Linked DNA regions of Homo sapiens: regions 1, 3, 4, 5 and 6 are each reported to be linked to region 2. The links are microRNA targets in miRTarBase. Many come from high-throughput screens and were not tested one by one. Region 2 holds a microRNA gene; each other region holds the end of a gene's coding sequence.

What was found. Region 2 holds the annotated microRNA hsa-miR-6749-3p (CUCCUCCCCUGCCUGGCCCAG, at 1,490-1,510, shown strand). A microRNA usually pairs through its seed, bases 2 to 8, with sites in the 3' UTR of a target mRNA and lowers its output. Matches are read on the target gene's strand: a 7mer-m8 pairs with bases 2 to 8, a 7mer-A1 pairs with bases 2 to 7 and ends in A, and an 8mer does both.
Region 1: the mRNA of PHF21B is a reported target of hsa-miR-6749-3p. Seed matches in the 3' UTR shown: 8mer at 517-524, 8mer at 1,545-1,552 and 7mer-m8 at 2,126-2,132.
Region 3: the mRNA of SNAI2 is a reported target of hsa-miR-6749-3p. Seed matches in the 3' UTR shown: 8mer at 2,044-2,051 and 7mer-m8 at 1,950-1,956.
Region 4: the mRNA of HOXA13 is a reported target of hsa-miR-6749-3p. Seed matches in the 3' UTR shown: 7mer-A1 at 1,508-1,514.
Region 5: the mRNA of FCHSD1 is a reported target of hsa-miR-6749-3p. Seed matches in the 3' UTR shown: 7mer-A1 at 786-792 and 7mer-m8 at 498-504.
Region 6: miRTarBase lists PHF1 as a target of hsa-miR-6749-3p. Seed matches in the 3' UTR shown: 7mer-m8 at 671-677.

The regions. Positions count from the first base shown.
Region 1 is chr22:44,880,253-44,883,471 of GRCh38, reverse strand. It overlaps PHF21B (PHD finger protein 21B), which reads left to right. Exons shown (of 13, transcript NM_138415.5): 13 at 168-2,310. The coding sequence ends at 386. Among named protein-coding and RNA genes, the nearest start is that of PHF21B, 130 kb to the left of the region's middle.
Region 2 is chr11:64,900,656-64,903,896 of GRCh38, reverse strand. It overlaps MIR6749 (microRNA 6749), which reads left to right and starts at 1,442; the gene lies at 1,442-1,510. ATG2A (autophagy related 2A) reads left to right here. Exons shown (of 41, transcript NM_015104.3): 25 at 237-307; 26 at 533-609; 27 at 1,217-1,381; 28 at 1,511-1,637; 29 at 1,721-1,935; 30 at 2,805-3,013.
Region 3 is chr8:48,916,204-48,919,444 of GRCh38, forward strand. SNAI2 (snail family transcriptional repressor 2) reads right to left here. Exons shown (of 3, transcript NM_003068.5): 3 at 1,395-2,785. The coding sequence ends at 2,604. Among named protein-coding and RNA genes, the nearest start is that of SNAI2, 3.6 kb to the right of the region's middle.
Region 4 is chr7:27,195,128-27,198,361 of GRCh38, forward strand. HOXA13 (homeobox A13) reads right to left here. Exons shown (of 2, transcript NM_000522.5): 2 at 1-3,234. The coding sequence ends at 3,071. Among named protein-coding and RNA genes, the nearest start is that of HOXA13, 3.3 kb to the right of the region's middle.
Region 5 is chr5:141,638,950-141,642,190 of GRCh38, forward strand. It overlaps FCHSD1 (FCH and double SH3 domains 1), which reads right to left. Exons shown (of 20, transcript NM_033449.3): 19 at 2,753-2,808; 20 at 353-2,614. The coding sequence ends at 2,549. RELL2 (RELT like 2) reads left to right here. Exons shown (of 7, transcript NM_173828.5): 3 at 6-72; 4 at 515-700; 5 at 971-1,346; 6 at 1,463-1,496; 7 at 1,722-2,115. The coding sequence ends at 1,495. Among named protein-coding and RNA genes, the nearest start is that of RELL2, 3.6 kb to the left of the region's middle.
Region 6 is chr6:33,415,712-33,418,952 of GRCh38, forward strand. PHF1 (PHD finger protein 1) reads left to right here. Exons shown (of 15, transcript NM_024165.3): 15 at 99-728. The coding sequence ends at 387. CUTA (cutA divalent cation tolerance homolog) reads right to left here and starts at 2,396. Exons shown (of 6, transcript NM_001014840.2): 1 at 2,248-2,396; 2 at 1,770-1,984; 3 at 1,540-1,599; 4 at 1,386-1,431; 5 at 1,209-1,258; 6 at 731-1,065. The coding sequence starts at 2,289. The coding sequence ends at 939. It also overlaps a transcript of SYNGAP1 not described here.

The DNA.
Region 1 (3,219 bases), not on the chromosome of region 2:
GCTGCTCTTTAATTGCATTTGCACCACTGCCTGGTTTTTGTGAAGCCCTCAGCCTGGTTTCTTGTAGGCCTTTGTAGTGGAGGGGAGAGGGGCCCAGACGGTGGCTGCCCCAGGATGGCTGTAGAGCCGAATACTGAGACCCTTTCCCCTGACCTTCTCCCCAACAGAAATGCCTGGAGTTGAAGACAAGCCTGCTGGCCCGCCAGAGGGGCACCCAGTCATCCCTGGACCGCCTGCGGGCCCTCCTGAGACTGATACAGGGCGAGCAGCTGCTCCAGGTCACCATGACGACCACTAGCCCTGCCCCACTGCTGGCCGGGCCCTGGACCAAGCCCTCAGTGGCAGCCACACACCCCACCGTCCAGCACCCCCAGGGCCACAACTGACCCCGAGGGACCAGTCTTCATACCCACGGAAAGTTATTGGGACCCTGCTTACACAGCCTGGGGGTTCTGTCGGCCTTAATTCATAAACACTATGAATTTCAGACAAAAATTAACCAGACAGAGGAGAGGAGGGAGGAAGAGCTGGGCGAGAGGCCTAGAGCCAGGACCAGGTGGGGGTGCGGCCCTGTGCCCTCCAAATTCACAGGGGGTACCTAGGAGCCAGGTGGGGTACGACAGGCTGGGGCACACAGTCTCCCCCCGGCCACCTCGGGGCTGCCTGGGCCTCTGGCTTCCAGGCCCTGCTCTCCACGGCCTCCCTCTGGCCCGTTGGAGGGGCAGGCTGAGGCTGTGGAGGGGACAAGCACGCCCCCCAGAACGCAGTCTCCACTGAGGGCACCGCCTATTGGTGTCCTGTGGGAGGGCGAGCTGAGAACACATGGACTAGCTGAGTGGTAGCGGTAGTTGGGACGAGAAGCGGGGTAGTGGATCTAGGTAGTTCCTCAATGCCCCACGCTCCTAGGAGGTCCCCCTGGGGTGGGCGGGCGGGCCTGGGGCACTCCGTCGCCTTTGCAGAACCACCTGGGCCCCTTTCTGTCAGTATTATTAGGGTTACGAATTGCAGCTGTTTAACTTGAAAGACACTGTCGGAGGTGAGCATCTGGGCGCCGGGACGCTGCAGTGATCCCCGCCAGAGCCTGTGCCCTTCCTGCTCCGTCTTTGGGGTCCTCAAGGCTGCCTCCTTCCTTTTGCCAATCTCTTGGACTCAGTTTGCCGTTGATGCGTTTTTCTCATGGAGTTTCTGGGCAGAGTGGAGCTGCAACCCTGTTGTGGGGGGCAGCATTTGGCAGGTTTTCTCCTTGGGGTTGAATCATTCAACTTAACGACTGAAGCCCTTTCTTGTCTCCTTTGGAAGAGCCGATAAGTATTCCACTCCTCCCTTCTTGCCAGTGCAGACACTATGCCAAAAAATAACTTCACACTTTTGTATGGCGTTTTTATTGTGAGATATTTAATGTGAATGGTTGGGGGGACTCTGGCTGACTTCCTTTCTGCTTCTAGTAGTCTCTGCTTCAAGGTACAAATGGGAACACCTCCCCTCGGGAAGCCTGGCCAAGCTGGAAGATCCGGCAGGTTTTTTACGAGCCGGGTGGAGGGTTGGGGAGGAAAGAAAGGGCGGTGGCTCGGGAGGTTCCGGCCTTCGGGGACCAGACTTGCTGCCAAGGGCTTCTGCATCCAGGGTGGGCAGTGGCAGCTTGTCACCCTTGCCCGATTCCCACATCCCAGTCCTGAGGGACTCAGCACAACAGGATAAGCGTCCAGGAGCCACGGGCTCCCACCCCGAGCATATCACATGGTGCCGAATTGCACTGAACACGCGTGTGTGCATCGCACGCGGCCACGACCACAGACACGCATGCACACACGCAGAGGTGCAGAGCGAGGAGGCCGGCAAATCCCGCAGCTGCCACGGTCCCTCCTGTCATTCTCACGACTCCGGGAGAAACTGTGCTGTATGATACAGATCTATTTTAATACACTTACCACTGGGTGAACAAGATTTTTATATTCTTTTATTGATGAACAAAGTGAACCGTGTGAGGCACACGTCTTCTATATTGGCTACTCTGTGCCAAGTATGCATTACCGCGTGGCTTGCGATGTCCATGTCTTCAGCTTCCTTTTCTGTTGGTTTGGTTTTCTTCGCGGATGGATTGAGTTACATGTTTTAACAGTGTAATGGGAGGATCTGAAAGGTTGGACCCGGGAGGGGTAGCTGCCGATGTGTCTTGAGATTGTTAGGTTTTTTTTGGACCAAGGAGGACCGTCCAGTGGGTAGTGAGGATAGAGAAAAAGTGTTTGTCTTAAATACGCCAATGTAGTTTTCCTTCTTTACAATGTATTAAACTCGATCGATGATTTCAAAGCCCTGTGGTTTTGGTGTCCTTGCGTTGCGGAGAGGCCCCCGGGAGTGCCCAGGGCAGCCAGGTGGGCGTTGGAGGGGCTGGAAATCAGGGTCTTCTCCCATCCTGAGGAGGGAGGGATGGAGGGAGGGAAACAGGGAGAGAGCTCAGTGCCCTCCACTCACTCACCCCCGATTCCCAGTCCTCAGAGGCGGCGGGTGACCCTTTAGGGCTAGGATTGAGGGTGGAAAGTCTTGGAAACCCAGCAGGTCTGTCACTGTGCAGAGCCCAAGGTGGTGCCCTCTGCTCCCTCATGGGTTCCTGCCTCTCAGCCTGGCAACATCACCGCTGTCTCTCTCCCCCAGCAGCGGGTACAGGCGCTCCTGCAGCCACGCTGAGCTTACACCTTGCCCTACAAGAGGTGGGGAATCAGCCCCCCTGAGTCCTAGCTCCTGGCATTGCACGGGGGACTCTGATTGGCCAAGTGGGTCGGGGCCGACCCCTGGGCAGTTAGCTGTGGCCAGAGGCTGGGGTCTAATGCCAAAGTGGGGTCCGGTGCCCCAGGGGACAGAGAGGTGGAGGGCATGCAGGGCTGCCACACAGTCCCGCTTCATGGCTTGCCCTGGGGAGAATAGTTTGGGAGGAGGGGAGCAGGTTTCAAGTCAGCTCTGCCTGAGCCCTCCTGGGGGCCACTCAAAAGACCACACTCGGCATCCGTGGCTCACTCCTGTCCTCTTTGGATTCTCTTCAGTCCGACTCCCCACCCCTTTGCACCTCTGGAACACCAGGTCAGTAGTGACCTCCCATGGCCAGATCCCCGGGGTGCTCCCGGTCATCACCTGGACCTCTCAGAACCAGAGGACACATTGGCCACACCCCCTGCCAAAGGAGGCTCCTGGGACCTCACTCCTGCCAATGTGGCTGCTCCCTGG
Region 2 (3,241 bases):
ACTGTCATGAGGCCCCATTGAGGTGTCGGAACTGCAGGCACTTTGAGAGCTGCAAGTGCTGCCCGCTTCCCACTGCCTGCTGTCTGGGCCTTCTCCCCATTGTGCAGGCAGGAACGCTGAGGCTGGAGGGGCCTGTCCATACCACCTCCTGTGGGCTTGGGACCCCTCTGCTCGGCTCCCGTGGAGCTGCCCCCTGCAGCGGTGCCCGGGCCCTTCTCAGCCCTGTTCCCCCCCAGGTTCATCCTCGATGACTCCGCCTTGTACCTGTCCGACAAGTGTGAGGTGGAGACCCTGGACCTGCGGCGAGGTGGGCAGGGCCGGGACTGGGCTCCCTCCCCTCTGAGGGACCACCGCCCCGGCCACACCCAGAGCAGCCAGGTGTCTCCCCGCAGCTGCTGGCCGGGTCCTTAGCTCCCACACGTAGCCCGCACAGCAGGGACTACACCTGGATCAACCGGATCCTTCCCCCAGGTGCTGGGGCCGGGGCCGGGTGGAAGGGGGCCACAGGACCTTTCTCTCGCCTCTGCTGCAGATTATGTCTGTGTTTTGGATGTTGACCTCTTGGAACTTGTGATTAAAACCTGGAAAGGGAGCACCGAGGGCAAACTGGTGAGTGAGGCTGTCACTCTGGCTCCTGGAGCCACAGCAGGTGCAGGGGCCAAGGGAGTCTTCAGGGGCTGCTGCTCCCTCACGTGCCTGGGCTCCGGACACAGTTCATGCCTGCCCTTCCTGGGCTGCAGTTAGCGCCCCTCCTGCAAAGGGCCATAGTACAGCCCTGGTGGGGGTGTCCCTTGATGCTGGCTGAATGAATGAATGGGTTTCAGCCCTGCCACCAGAGGACGCGGCAGCCAGGGCACCAGCGAGGCCCTGGGAATCAGCCACCTTTGTAGGTCCCCGGATTCATCTCCTGTAAGATGGAGATAACCTGCCCTGCCTCGCTAGGCATGCAGAGCCCTTCACGGGGAGTGGGGTAGGGTGGGTGGGCACACTCCTGCTTCCTTGGATGGCCCTGGGCCAAGCCCCTTTCACCCTCTGGGTGAACAGTTTGTTCATCTGTTCAGTGGAGTTACTGGGCAGGTCATCCACTCCAGGAGAGACCATCCCTGTTCTGCCTGTGGCAGGATCAGAACTGCGGTGCCCTCCCAGCGAGCGGGTGGGGCCAGCAGGCAGTGGCCCCTGTGTTCACATAGCTGCTCCCCCCACCCCGCCCCTGCAGAGCCAGCCACTATTCGAGCTGCGCTGCTCCAACAATGTGGTACACGTGCACAGCTGTGCCGACTCCTGTGCCCTGCTGGTCAACCTGCTCCAGTACGTAATGAGCACAGGCGATCTGCACCCCCCACCCCGGCCCCCCAGCCCCACGGAGATCGCCGGCCAGAAGGTACAGGTGAGGCCTGGCCACACAGGCTACCAGAGCTCGGCCAGGCCCCTCCCCTGCCATGGCCCTCGGGCCTGGGGTTGGGGGAGCTCTGTCCTGTCTCACTCATTGCTCCTCCCCTGCCTGGCCCAGCTCTCGGAGAGTCCTGCCTCTCTGCCCTCGTGCCCCCCAGTGGAGACGGCCCTCATCAACCAGCGTGACCTGGCCGACGCCCTCCTGGACACCGAGCGCAGCCTACGGGAGCTGGCCCAGCCTTCAGGTGAAGTGGGGGTGCTGTGGGGACAGCAGACACAGTCAGGCACCCACTGTGGGCGCCTCTCCAAACTGGCCTCTCTCCTATAGGTGGCCACCTCCCTCAGGCGTCGCCCATCTCCGTCTACCTATTCCCAGGTGAACGGAGTGGGGCCCCACCCCCTTCACCACCTGTCGGGGGCCCTGCTGGCAGCTTAGGGTCATGCTCAGAGGAGAAGGAAGATGAAAGGGAAGAGGAGGGCGATGGAGACACCCTGGACAGTGATGAGTTCTGCATCCTTGATGCTCCCGGCCTGGGCATCCCGGTGCGTGGTGGGAGGGATGGACCAGTTTGCCGTCCAGGCAGGTGTGTTTGGAGCGGGGACGGAACACTCAGGGGTGGTTGCCTGGCCATCTGGAGCTCCCGTGGTGAGAGAAGCAGGCAGGAGGTGGTTGCCATCACCTCGGGGGTGGTGCTAGGTCTGTGCCACCCTAGGGAGGCAGCCCTGATGCTGGGCTTTGATGGAGTAGGGGGATTTCCAGAGGAAGAGGAGGCCTGGTGTTTTGGGCAGAGGGACTGGGAAATTCAAGGGATGGAGGAAGAGGAGAGGGCAGTTAGCAAGAGGGATGGAGAACCATGTGGCTGCAAGGGCCAGTGGGAATGTCTGAACTCACCCAGGTCTTAGGAGGCAGGGCTGGCAGGAGCCTGGCATTCTCAGGCTCCTCTTGGACAGACCACTCAGGCATAGACTCGGGTGATAGCAACCCAGGAGTGTCATCTTTCATCAAAAACAGGGAGGAGGCCAAGCATGGTAGGTTACGCCTGTAATCCCAGCAATTTGGGAGGTCAAGGTGGGAGAATTGCTTGAGTCCAGCAATGAGAGATTAGCCTGAGCAACATAGTGAGACCCCGTCTCTACAAAAAATAAAAATAAAATTAGCCAGATATGGTGGCACATGTCTGCAGTCCCTGCTACTCAGGAGGCTGAGAATGGAGGATCGCTTGAGCCTAGGAGGCAGAGGTTGCAGTGAACTGTGATTGTGCCACTGCACTCCAGCCTGGGTGACCGAACATGACCCGACCCTGTCTATAAAAAAAAAAAAATGAAAAAGAAGTGAGGCCAGGTTGCTGGGGCTGGGGGCAGCTGGGCTGGATCGAACATCTGTGTCACACGTCTACCTGGCCTCCCTGCAGCCCCGAGATGGGGAGCCTGTGGTGACACAGCTGCATCCCGGCCCCATCGTTGTGAGGGACGGTTACTTCTCACGGCCGATCGGCAGCACGGACTTGCTGCGGGCACCTGCCCATTTCCCAGTGCCCAGCACTCGGGTGGTGCTACGTGAGGTCTCCCTCGTCTGGCACCTCTATGGGGGCCGAGACTTTGGCCCCCACCCCGGCCACAGGTGAGGAGGAGCGGGTGCAGGTGGCAGCTGGTGAAGGTTGGGGCTCAGGCTGGTCCAGGTCTGACTTTCAGCAGCTGGAGACCTTGAGCCCCATCCACCCCAGGTGGGCCTCAGTTTCCTCATCCTTCCTTATCCCGCCTGCCTTCCAGGACTGGGGCTAGCGGGGGTCTCTTGTCCCAGGCTAAAAGGCCCGCTGAGGACGGGGAGGGAATGGGGTTCCTCTGAGTC
Region 3 (3,241 bases), not on the chromosome of region 2:
ATCCATGATACCTTAATGAAAGTAAAACATTTTAAACATGAAATTAGAATGATGAGAATGAAGTCAAATAAATTACAAAAATATTACTACTAATTCTTCACTAAGAAATTAAATAATGAATAGACTTTTCCTCTTAGAAAGCTGATTAGATTTTGGACACCAAGACACTACTTGCCTGTAGACCTACAAATGAGGAAGGGAAACAGGAGTAGATATGATTCCTGGGATAGCCAACCAGAACATCCAAGAAGGCTTGACTCACTCACACTTCCCCTTGCCAGATGTTTCTACATGCTAGCTGGCTTGGAAACTTCTAGACAATCATTGGCAATCATTTTTATACCATATACATTTAGCTAAATTGGTACTTTTATAAGTTTAGAATGCTCCAGTCAAGCTATCAGCCATTTTTTCATATCCATAAACTGCTATTTCAAATAATTTTGCCTCTAAAAAATATGTATTGCAATGTCAAAAAATTAAAGCAGAATACTTGGGAAGCCTTTTTTTAGTCAAATGCACCCCCTTTTATATGGTGGCTGAAAATGTAAATGTAACATACAGTGGAAGGAATGCGAACATTAAGGGAATAGTATTGGTATTTATTGTTGGTCATTTGCTAGGGGCCTGCTACCAACATCTTTGAGATACAGGTTCTGGCATTTATTGGTATAATATTACAAAGATATTAAAAGGAAAAAGATGATTCTCCAAGTTCTGATCAAATCACCAGAGAGATGTGATGAACAGAAGCAGGACTCTTCTTCTTTTAGTAGGTTTAGGAGTTTGAATTCAAATATATATTTGGCTAACTTTCACAGTTCCTATGATGGTTAGGATTTTTGCATGTGAGTTACTACACATGCATTTATTTAGCATCTACACATGCATATGTGTATGAATGCATGGTCATGTTATACTTTCTCCAGTACACATTAGGTTTGAGTGTGGGCTTGTCCAACGTGTTCAAATACCTTAAAAGGTAATTTCCACTGCTCACTGACCTGTTCCTATCAAACACATCACTTATTTTATATATTACTAGATGCGGGGTTTTCTTTGCATGGTTTAACTTTCCAACTTGTGTAATTTATAGTAAATCGTTTCTCCTGGTCTTTTCATGCAGTTTGTATTCTTTTCCCTCATATATCTCTTTACATAATATTTCTTTTAAAAATCTTAAACTGTTACAGTGTGTAGGTAATAATAAAAGTGATTGTATTTTTTGTCTTCATAAAACAAACTTAATAAAGTCAACATGAAAAATTTTGAAAAGTATTTTTAACTATTAGTAATACAACTAGTTTTGCACCCAGAAAGTGTGATTTTTGTTAAAGTGGTATGCTAACAAACCACCGTCATGTCTCTTCTGAATGTGATACTACTATCTTGAGTAAAAATAATACTAGCAGCTTACTTTATTATAATCTAACACATAAAATAACACTTCAGATGCATAATAAGCATTATTCATTTTTTTCTTGTTAACAAACAATTCTTTGTACAGTGGTTTGGTACTAATCATGAAGCAAGTAAAGTCTCTGAAAATAGTATACAAACGAGATTTTAAATCAAAACTGTTTATTGTAAAAAAAACTTGAAAATTGTTTTTTAAAAAAGAAACATTGATTTCACAAGTCTTCAGGTTGTTTATAGACATAGCTATAGACAACATCTCAGTTTCATACAGAACTCATTCAATCATATAAAAATAAACACAAATTTACATTGACTCATCAACTATACAATTTAAAAAGGCACTTGGAAGGGGTATTGTATTATTGCATTTGTGGTATGCATTTGAAATAGTTTAAGTACATTAATGAATTTGTAAGAATCCTCTTTTGCACTTATTCCCATCTTTAATTAATTTTCAAAAATTATTAAAATGTTTTAAAATAGTAAGACAATGGAGCATGCGCCAGGAATGTTCAAAGCTAATCTTTCCCTCCTCCCCCAAGGCACATACTGTTAATTGGCAAAAACAAAACAAAACAAAAATACTTTTAATACATTCTCCTGTGTTTTGTTCTTGTTATTTTTTTCCTCCCTTTTAAAAATATACTTTAAAGCACTACAGGTAATCAAAAAAAGGCTTTAGTTCAACAATGGCAACCAGACAACCGACATGTAATGGAGTAAACTTGGAATACTTTTTAAGGCACCTGAGTTCGCGTCTGGCAGATCTCTTCCTATGGGAAATCCTATTACAGACTCTATTACAAAGCAATACTGTTCTTTTCAGTTGAAATGATTTGGCAGCAATGTAAATCTTTGCATTTTTTTAGGAAGAAAAGATGCAATGTGCTTTTCATTTTATCTTTGAAGAGAAAGGTTACTGTCTTTTATTCTCTCAATCTAGCCATCAGCAAATATATAGTAATTTTAAACTTCACATGGAAAGGATTATCTTTAAACACATGAATTCCATGCTCTTGCAGCTCTCTCTCTGTGGGTGTGTGTGTGTGTGTGTGCATATGTGTGTGTGTCTATACATATTATTTGGTTGGTCAGCACAGGAGAAAATGCCTTTGGACTTTATTTGTCATTTGGCTTCGGAGTGAAGAAATGCATTCTGTTCGAGTAAACATTGATTGCGTCACTCAGTGTGCTACACAGCAGCCAGATTCCTCATGTTTGTGCAGGAGAGACATTCTGGAGAAGGTTTTGGAGCAGTTTTTGCACTGGTATTTCTTTACATCAGAATGGGTCTGCAGATGAGCCCTCAGATTTGACCTGTCTGCAAATGCTCTGTTGCAGTGAGGGCAAGAAAAAGGCTTCTCCCCTGGGGGTGGAGTGGGAGAAAAAAAGAAAGACAGTCAGTGTTTTTAGAGGAAACATAAAGTAAAATCATGTTAACAAAAGTCAATCACATTTTGCTTAAATAATGAGAAGCAGCAAAACCTGATTAAAATCCCTCATAATAGACACTTTTAAAAATACCTGAATTTTTAAGATAAACTTGAATATTGCATTTAAAAATCATACACGAATATTATTACTGCTGCCAATCATACAGAAATAATTTACGTAGTTCTTGGACTTTCACTTCTTAAAGCTTTCTGCTTTAGCAGATGCAGCTAATGTTGAGCACCTCCCAACATTTCCCAATATTTCCCCTTTTCCCTCTTTCTGTACTATGATTAAGGTGGTCTAAGTGCCATGATACCCTGCAGAATAATTCTGTGATACGAATAAGAAATTAAGGAGCAAAAAATCCCCAAACAAAGCAAGAGAGGCA
Region 4 (3,234 bases), not on the chromosome of region 2:
GCAGCAAAATATAATTGAATTTCTCGAGACCTTTCGATATGTATGTTTCAACACCAGCCTGTTTTTGAGACAGCTTTAGAGACTCTTTCGTAATTCTCATCTATAAAGAAGTTGTGAGTCCTCAGGAGAGGTTGGAGAGGTTTCCGGCAGCCACTTTTGTAACCAATCAATATTATTTTCCATAAAATGATGAATCTGGTTCTTCCATTCACTATTACTTTCCTCTAACGTAAAGATAAAATTAGCCTGCATCTCACAATTCTGCATCCCACGGCTACTGATTCCACCAACATTTTAATACATATGCGCATAGCATAGATTTGACAAAAACACATTATCCTATGTGTATATTAAATATACAAACATACATATGTATTCTTTATGACTCTGAATACAGCACCTGATTGTTGTTAGAGGTCAACAGTAGATATAATATTATTATTATAGTTTTGATGGAAGTTGTTAATATTAAACATATTTATTTATCCTACAAATCAAATGGCAGATTCACAAGCATCAATATAAGATTGCACACCACCCTGGAGCAGTACTCAGCTCTGAGTTATCCAGGATAACTCTCGTTCTGTATCCAATCCTGTGGTCATTTTGTAGATATGAAATATTAAGTCCTCTTTACTGACCTCTCAAGAGGTGGGTTTCTTAGACTTTCTGAAACATAACTCTAGAACTCTAGACTTAGCAAGGCATCTGAATCTTAATTTGCTGTAAAGACTCCTCAATAGCTCTAATTACAGTGTGAGACCACCCTGGAGGGTGAGGACCAGGAAGGAATGGTGATTTAAGAACACATCTTAGACTGTAACAAAAATGTACAGCTTTAAAGCAGATCTGCAGAAATCTGATGCAGAGCAAGCCACTGTGAAGACAAATCAAATTTGGCCATTAGAGAAAAGGAACAAGGCTTCATCTTGTAAAGTACATTTTGTACCTCAATTCTAGAAATCACCTTAAATTACAATATCTTGCGTCATTAGCAATTAATGATATGATATCTGTACAGATTCTACAAATATATATACAAGCACACACAAGCACTAATATGCAAATGTATACATGTGTACACATATTATATATATTTACATATATACAGGGACATGTATAATTTACATATATTCAAATTTGCTCCAGCTGGAGCCAAATAATTGAGTACTGAATCTCTAAAGTCAAGGAGGTAAGAGCTCTTGATTCCCTTGGTTGAAGAATTACAAGGAGGCTTGTCAACGCGAGGTGGCGCCCTTGATCTACTAATCCAGCTAAGGCCAATTCATGAGCTGTCAAAAGTCAAGGTCACAAATTGTCTTTTTTTTCGTCAAGGTCAAGGTTTAAGGCCTTTCGTAGTCCTGTCATTTCAACAAATATCAAAACCTGCCCTCTCAGACACATGCAGACCCAACAGCAGATTTTAAAATACGACAGCCTAGGCATTGCTGCTACAAAACAACTGGTTTTCATTTTCCACAGGGAGCCTGGGAATTCATACTATCTCTTCCTCCTTTCTTTTCTCTCCCTTTTGTAATACCTGACACTTTAATCTCCTTGAAGCACTTATCATTTTTTAGGATTTTAGTTATGAGGGATTTCTCCCTTTTCTTAAAAATTTGGTAGCAAAAGAAGTACTGAATAATAATAAAGAATGGTCCTTGGTTTATATAAGATAAACCTGCTCCTTTTCTTTCTGTGCAGTGCACATTTAGCATAGGAAAGTAAAGAGTATTTTCTGCAGATTTTAATGGCAGTGACTATTTTATTAACAATTAATATTACGATATCACTATCTACAGGTCTAAGGGTTTTTTTTTTTCATTTTTAGTAGAAATATTTAAAAAGCAGGTGCACAAATACATTTTCACAGTGTGCTGAATGTCTTTATTTACAAGATATCATTCTATAGTGAATATGAACAAAACGAATGTGCTGGTTGAAATAACTGCTTGATTAAAAATGTGCTGTGAAGATGAATCACTAATCTTTCTAATGCACTCTGATAACACAATAAACATGGAAAAATACTAATCCCTTAATAGATCAAAATATAGAATATAGACACCTAAATATTTCAGGGGAATGAATTTTCATTCTGAGTTTTCTAAAAAAGAAAAAAGAAAAATGATTTCTCCAGCAAATGTTTAGCAAATATTGGGAAATGCCAATTCAAATGAAAAAACGAATTGTGTTCAAACCAAAGTCCATCATGTTGGGATGGAAACTCTCGGGAGATCTCACATAAAGTGAATTCTGTGGATCATCTGATGATGTAAACATTTTCAAAAAGATACAAAATCCTTTGGAAAATAACGGATATTGGAGCAGTAAATATAGTTCAAATGCCACAAAATATGCTTGTTATAAGCAATTAAAAATTATTCTTAAAAAGACATTACCGACCCGGGTTCTCTTGTAGCCTGAAAGGTTCAGCTGGTTGGTTTTACTATACTACCAAGACAAATGATCCTCAGAAGAGTTTTCTCTCCCTTTCTCCCTTCACAGCAAATATTCCAAGATCATTATTTCAGTACCTTCTCGTTTCCCCTCTAAATCTATACATAAAATGTTTTGCAGAACGTACAACAACGGTAGGAATTTCACTAAGATTTACCTGAGCAGACGCTTAACATGCAAAGGGAATGGCGACCTAAGAAGGACAAGCAGATGTTTACAATGGCCTCTTGCGTTTGTAACCAACTTCCAGATTATTACCATCTAACGCAGTGTCCTAAAATGTAACGATCACTTAAATACTTACAAGATTTCAGTAACTGCGTAACTTATCTGAAATTGCGTATTTTGGGGGTTGACGTTTGACATTTAACGGGCTGGGCTGATGGGGTTGGCGGAAGAACTGGCAGTCTTTACCTTTCTTAAAGTTTTAAAACAGTTGTAGATTCCATTAAAGAGAAAGAGATCTCCTTCGGGAGAGGAAAATGCCAGTCTCTGTCTCTTTCTCTTTCCCATTCTTCAATTATTATTAAGCATTATTATCATTATCTGGGCAAAGCAACGAGTTCTGAAGCGTTTCTTCAAGTTGCCTTCTTGCTCTATTTTTAATCCATTAACTAGTGGTTTTCAGTTTGTTGATGACTTTTTTCTCTTTAACCCTCCTGTTCTGGAACCAGATTGTGACCTGCCGCTCAGAGAGATTCGTCGTGGCTGATATCCGCCTCCGTTTGTCCTTAGTAATGAATTTATTCGTGGCGTATTCCCGTTCAAGTTCTT
Region 5 (3,241 bases), not on the chromosome of region 2:
CTCAGCCAATGCTGAGGCCTTGAAGGAGATGCTGGGGGACAGTGAAGGAGAAGGGACAGTGCAGCTGTCCAGGTGAGCTGGAAACAAGGGCCAGCATGACTTAGCTTGCCTTGGAGAGTATCCTCTCCTCCAGCACAATCCTCTCCCAGCCTCCTTGCATGTATGGGGTTGGGGGAAGGGCAAAGCTGGCTAACTTATAGGAAGAAAGTTGTTTTGTAGAAATCGCGATTCCTTCAAACCATCTCTCTCATCTAGATATCATCAAGCCTAACATTCACCTCTAGTGCCACTCCTTTGGGTTAAGCAGTGTTCTTTTTAGCAAACAGCCCTGGGAGGAAGAACATATGGTCACTAACATCTTAATATTGAGTTTATTAGATAAAGACAAGAAAAAATGGGGCTTGGGGAAATTGGGGCTTCTGGGGTTTTAAGGAGCATGCTGAAAGAACGTAAGAAACAAAACATGAAGGGAAATGGAAATGTTACCCTCACTCCCCTCCTCCCTGCTGTCCAGTGTGGATGCCACCTCCAGCCTGCAGGACGGAGCCCCCTCCCATCATCACACAGTGCACCTGGGCTCTGCAGCCCCTTGCCTCCATTGCAGCCGCAGCAAGAGGCCTCCACTTGTCCGTCAGGGACGCTCCAAGGAAGGAAAAAGCCGCCCCCGGACAGGGGAGACCACTGTGTTCTCTGTGGGCAGGTGGGGCAGGTGCTCCAGGGAAAGGGGGGCTGAGGTAGGGGGCCCAGTGATCAGGCACCTGATCCCAAAAGTGGGCCTTGGCTCTTTCCTCCTGGACTGGGAGCTCCGGCAGAAGTCAGGCTACACAATGTGCCCCACAATCTGAGAAGGCCTCCCCTACCTTAGGCCAGAGGGAAGTAGCCACCAAACTCAGGATGTCCCTGGTCAGAGGGGAGGGCCAAGCAGCCTCTGAGTTGTGGTCCTAAACCCCAGTGTTCCCTCCCCTCCCAGGTTCCGGGTGACACACATTGAGAAGCGCTATGGACTGCACGAACACCGTGATGGCTCCCCCACAGACAGGAGCTGGGGCTCTGGTGGGGGACAGGACCCAGGGGGTGGTCAGGGGTCTGGGGGAGGGCAGCCCAAGGCAGGGATGCCTGCCATGGAGAGGCTGCCCCCTGAGAGGCCACAGCCCCAGGTCCTAGCCAGCCCCCCAGTACAGAATGGAGGACTCAGGGACAGCAGCCTAACCCCTCGTGCACTTGAAGGGAACCCCAGAGCTTCTGCAGAGCCAACACTGAGGGCCGGAGGGAGGGGCCCAAGCCCAGGGCTGCCCACTCAAGAGGCAAATGGGCAGCCAAGCAAACCAGACACTTCTGATCACCAGGTAGGAAAACACAGCCGGGACTGCACTGGGCTGGGCTCTTATTGCTCTCTACTCTGGGGGGCACTGATAGGACCTACTCCTGGTCTCTCATTGTTGACCCCTCCCCTTTCTCTCAGGTGTCTCTACCACAGGGAGCAGGGAGTATGTGAGGTGAGTCTGCCTGAGCCCTAAATGAGGTAATCTCATCTTCCCATCACCTACTTAAACTATTTAAGCCTTTCGGCTCCCTGAACCCCCCGAGTAAACTGCAGGCTTAGCCTTTGCTATAAATCCCTTGGTTTGGTGGTGGAGGTAGGGAAGGTCCTGGAGCCCCAGGGGAAAAGCTGGACACAGCTTGAACAGGAAGCAACAGTGTTATTCTTCCTCTTCTCCAAGTCTCCTTCATTGTGCTGATGGACTACCAGCTGGCAGGGCCAGGGGGTGGGTGGGCGTGAAAGCCCTCCCCTCCACTGGACAGCACTGCCCCCCAGCTGAGGGACCAGCTCTACTTCCACCTGGAGTTGCACAGTCTCAGGCTGGGGGCCTCAGGAGAGGTCACAGCCCCTCAGTCTCTTCTCCTTCCCCTGCCTGCAACAGGCTGCCTGCCCCGCCTTCCCCAACACCTCGCTCCATATGATAGAGCGTGGCAGCTGGGAGCAGGCCCCTGCCCGTGGTGGGCCCCTAAAGCAATAGCACCGTAGGCCCCCTGCCCTCTTAGCACAAGAGGCCCAGGCCCTGGCCTGGCCTTCGTGCCCTTTATTCATTGTCAATAAATCCGCTCAGACCATTACAGCTGCTTCGCATCCTGGCTCCAGCTCCTGATTCCCAAGGCCTGTTCCTCTCCCCAGCCCAACCCCAGTGACCCTGGCATCCAGAGTGGGGTGGGTCATGGAGCCAGGGTGGGGAAAGAGGTGGGCCAGAACTACTAGAGACCTTGATGGATGGTTTCCAGCCCCAGAGATTTCAGGCATTTCACCACCCTAGATAGGGTCATGACAGAAGAGAAGGTAGTTCCGGTCCTAGAGATGATAGAACAATGGGAAAAAAAGGAGTGGGTTCCAGCTCTAGAAATGGGAAGGGGCAAGTTTCCACCCTTGGAGGTGAGGGTGGAAATAAGGGCGATTCCAGCTTTTGGCTGTGTTGCTCTGGATCATTGATGGTGTGGTCTGACAGCTTGAAGATAGGGACAGCAGCATCACTGGGGGTCAAGGCTTCCCTGGCCTTCAGGTGAGGGGATCTGGGTGGCCAGGATCCGGGGCTTTAGCCGGCGGGGGAGGTGGTGGACGCATCTGTAGGGAACACACAGTTAGTGCTCCAGAGTTCTCCCTTAAGGGTATCCCTGTCTATTCCCTCAGCCCTGCAGACAAAACAGGACTGGTTGGAATAACCCCTCTACATACAATCTCCTCCAAGGCAAGGGCCCTTACCGGCCTGAGTCGAGGTGCCATCATGTCCAGGAACCCAGGGAAGTCCAGGGCTTTGTCTGGAAATAAGAACCACAAGTCAGTCTTCAGACTTTGTTTTGTTCAATGCTGTATCTCCAGCACTTAGGACAGTGGCATTCTATAAATATTTGTTAAATTAATGGTCACCATCCTAGACCATAAAATCCATCACTCTATCCACTGTCCTCAACATTTATTGGGCAACTGCTGTATAATCAGCTCTGCTCAAGGTACAAAACTAAGGGAGATAGGATGCATAGTGCTCCCACCCCCAATGGCTGTCAAGAAACCAATAATGAAACCTCAACAAACACAATAAATGACTAAGTGCTAAGTCATGCAAAGTGAACTTGGGGTGGTGGAGATGGTGGTAACTCCAGGGAGGGAGACTCCTTGTGGACAAGGTGGAAGTACCAGAAAGTTTTAGAAAAGGCAGGCATTCCACAGCCATAAAAAAGAATGAAATCATGT
Region 6 (3,241 bases), not on the chromosome of region 2:
CTCTATGTGCTCAAGGCTCTTAGTCTCTAACACTGTTTCTCTGATTCACATGTGCTCTCCATTTCTGCCCATTTCTTACAATTGCCTTCTCTCCCTAGGTCACCCCTGGAACTTCACATTGGTTTCCCCACAGACATCCCTAAAAGTGCCCCCCACTCGATGACTGCCTCATCTTCCTCAGTTTCATCCCCATCCCCAGGTCTTCCTAGACGCTCAGCACCCCCTTCTCCCCTGTGCCGTAGTTTGTCTCCTGGGACTGGGGGAGGAGTCCGAGGTGGGGTTGGTTACCTGTCCCGAGGGGACCCTGTCCGGGTCCTTGCTCGGAGAGTACGGCCTGATGGCTCTGTGCAGTACCTGGTTGAGTGGGGAGGAGGGGGCATCTTCTGAACAGCCTGCCTCTGCCCAGCTCCCCATTCACACACACCGGCACTTTCATACCCTGACCTCTGACCTCACCTACAGCTGGGATGTACCTGGAGAGATAGGGGGTAGTTCTCCCTACTGCCCAGGCTGGAATCCAAGAGTGGGGAGTGGGGAAGAGGCCCTCTTCTCTACCCTCCTTCATGATTCCTGACCCCTCCCATCCTTCCCATTTCCTTTGATGTTATTTTGTTACAGCTTTTTAAATATTTTTTAAAATTATTTAACCCCTGGGGGCAGAGACTGAGGAGGGAGGATGATAAGGGATCCCGGACTCTGTATGATTGAAATAAAGAGAAATAAACAAATCTAGCAGCTCTGAGTCATTCTGAAAGATGTAGAGAATACAGGGACTAGAAGCACTTATATTCTCCCAACAAATTTGCATACATGACAAAAAACAGGCAAAAGGCAGAGAGACCCAAAGACGGGATTTATTGGGGGCCCAGTCATCACCTGGAAGTCAGAAGGCGTTGAAGTATCGCGGGGATCTTCATGATGAGCAGGAACAGGGCTCATCATGGCAGGACTGTGATAGAGTCAGAAACTGACTCTGTGACCTGGCGCACCCACTGCAGGTACGGAAAGTTCCCCTGTTCCACAGGCAATGCAATTACCTCGGCCACTTCGTAAGGGTGCACAGAACTACAAAATAGGTGGGTGGGGGAAGGGGATCACTCAAAGATTTACCCAAAAGAACCCACTCCCTTACACGCAAGCCCTAGACTGCCCAGCAAGTCACACCCACACAGTACACACCCTCACCCCATCCATCTCAAAGTTCTCACCGAACAAAATCTGTCAAAGCTGGGACCAAGGAACTTTGGGTTTTAATCATCTAAGGGACAAAGATAAACATGGTTGAATCAAGGAGTGGGATTGAGTTCAGTTTCTCAGAAGAGGGGTAAGGGCTAAAGGGGTCAGGGATTGGGGATATTTTGTTGGGTGGGGGAAATGTTTCTCACCATCAGCACCTCACTGTCTTCCTCGATCTTCCCTTTCCACTCATAGCTGAAAGGTCAGAGGGGGAGAGTTGTGGGGAGCAAAGAATTTCCCCCAGGAAAGAGGTTCCCAGTCAGCTCCTACAGTTAGGTTAACCCCCCAACTCCTATGACTCACATGGATGTAATCTGAGGGATGAGGTTGACGCAGGCTGCTAGGCGCTTCTCCACCACGGCCCTGGAGTGAAGAGACAGTCCCATTCAGAGTACCCCATAACCCCAGTTTTTGTACTGGCAGCCCAGAGACAGGCTTCCAGAGCTGGAGAAAGGAGAAAGCAGCACTCTTCTGCCCCACCCCCAACTGTCCCTTCATGATCATCCTTTCTCGCTGCACATCGAGGTCCCTACCTGGCGATCTCCTTGGCGACCTTCTCGTTGGGGCAAGTAACAAAGGCTGCAGAGACCGAGCCCGGAACGTAGCCAGAGCCGGAATCCGAGGCCGGCGAGGGCTGGGTCGGAGGGCTTCCAGAGGCCATGGTCAGCAAGACTCGGGGTAGCAACAAAAGGCGGGAGGCCACAGGCAGCAGCGCCGGCATCCAAACAAAAGACAGGAGCAGAGAGGCCTGAGAGCAGGAGGCGAATTCGATCTCTCCTCACAAACAGCCCAGGAAATTACACCCGGGGAAGCCTTCGCTTAGATCCTCAGGCTCTGCCCTCCCTCTGATGCACCCCCGAAGAATGCCCCTGAAGGTGAGAGAGAAACTTGGAAAATAAAGCAAAAGCTCATTTCACTCACACCTCAGGGGGCCAACCTCTGGGATTTAGGGTGCGGGTAGCGGTCGAGGCTTCGAGGACCGGAAGGGGCGGGGCGGGGCCGGTCACTCACCACTCCGCCGAGCAGGACCGCGGGAGCCCGCCCCCCACTCATGCGGCCTACGCTGGTACAGGAGAGTTGATCTCAAAGGCCACACGTCACACGGAGAAACAACCCCAGGAAGAGCGGCCTCTTCTTACCTGGGTGGCAGCCACGTGATTAGAAAACAGCGCGCACCATGTGACAGTAGAAGAAGGACCACCTGCGCCTCCAGAGCCAGCCAATCCCGACCCTATCATGGCGCGGTTTGCCCACCTCCTGATGAAGGAGGAGCCATGGGAGACTTGACCAATCGACTACCGCATCTGCAGACGTGCGCGGAAATGGCACGCCCGTTTCCGTGTGAACCCGAAACTGCCACTTGCTGGCTGAGGAGAGCCGCTGCGGCGTTCCACTGTCACGTGAGGGGGCCGGTCCTCTTCGGCGGCGGCACTCAGTGAGTGACGCCAAGTGGCCAATCACAGGCCAGCCTCGCAGGCCACGTGAGGCGAGAGCTGGTTCCAGGAAAGGGGGGCCAGAGACCCCGCAGAGTCGATGCGTCAGGCTGTGGAGTGGGGAATCATCCTTAAACCCCACAATGTGCCTAGTGACCTCCCCTGCACTGTTTCCGAGGTCTTAAGGAGTGGGAGGGTCTGAGAAGGACCCTTCACCCCAAACTCAGGGGTTAAGAGAGCGCCCCCTGCCCTTTTAGTTGGGCAGAGATATGCCTGGGTTTGGGAATGAACAACGGTGATCTAGAAGCCCGCTGTCCCTGGGTAGCAGGGAGTGATTAGGCAGGCACGGGCATGGCAAGACAATAGCTAGCTGAGGAAAGAAGCATTTTAAAACAGAGCGAGACCCTGTGGTAGAGGATGGTGAAAATGGGGCCTAGCCATCTTAATTGAAAACCCAAAGCTTGAGACAGACTACTGAATCAGAGGGAAGGAGAACGAGGGCTGCAGGATGGGGACAGTGGTGATGGTCCTTCTGTCCCCTCTTCCCTGCCTATTCCACTCCCCAGGATTGG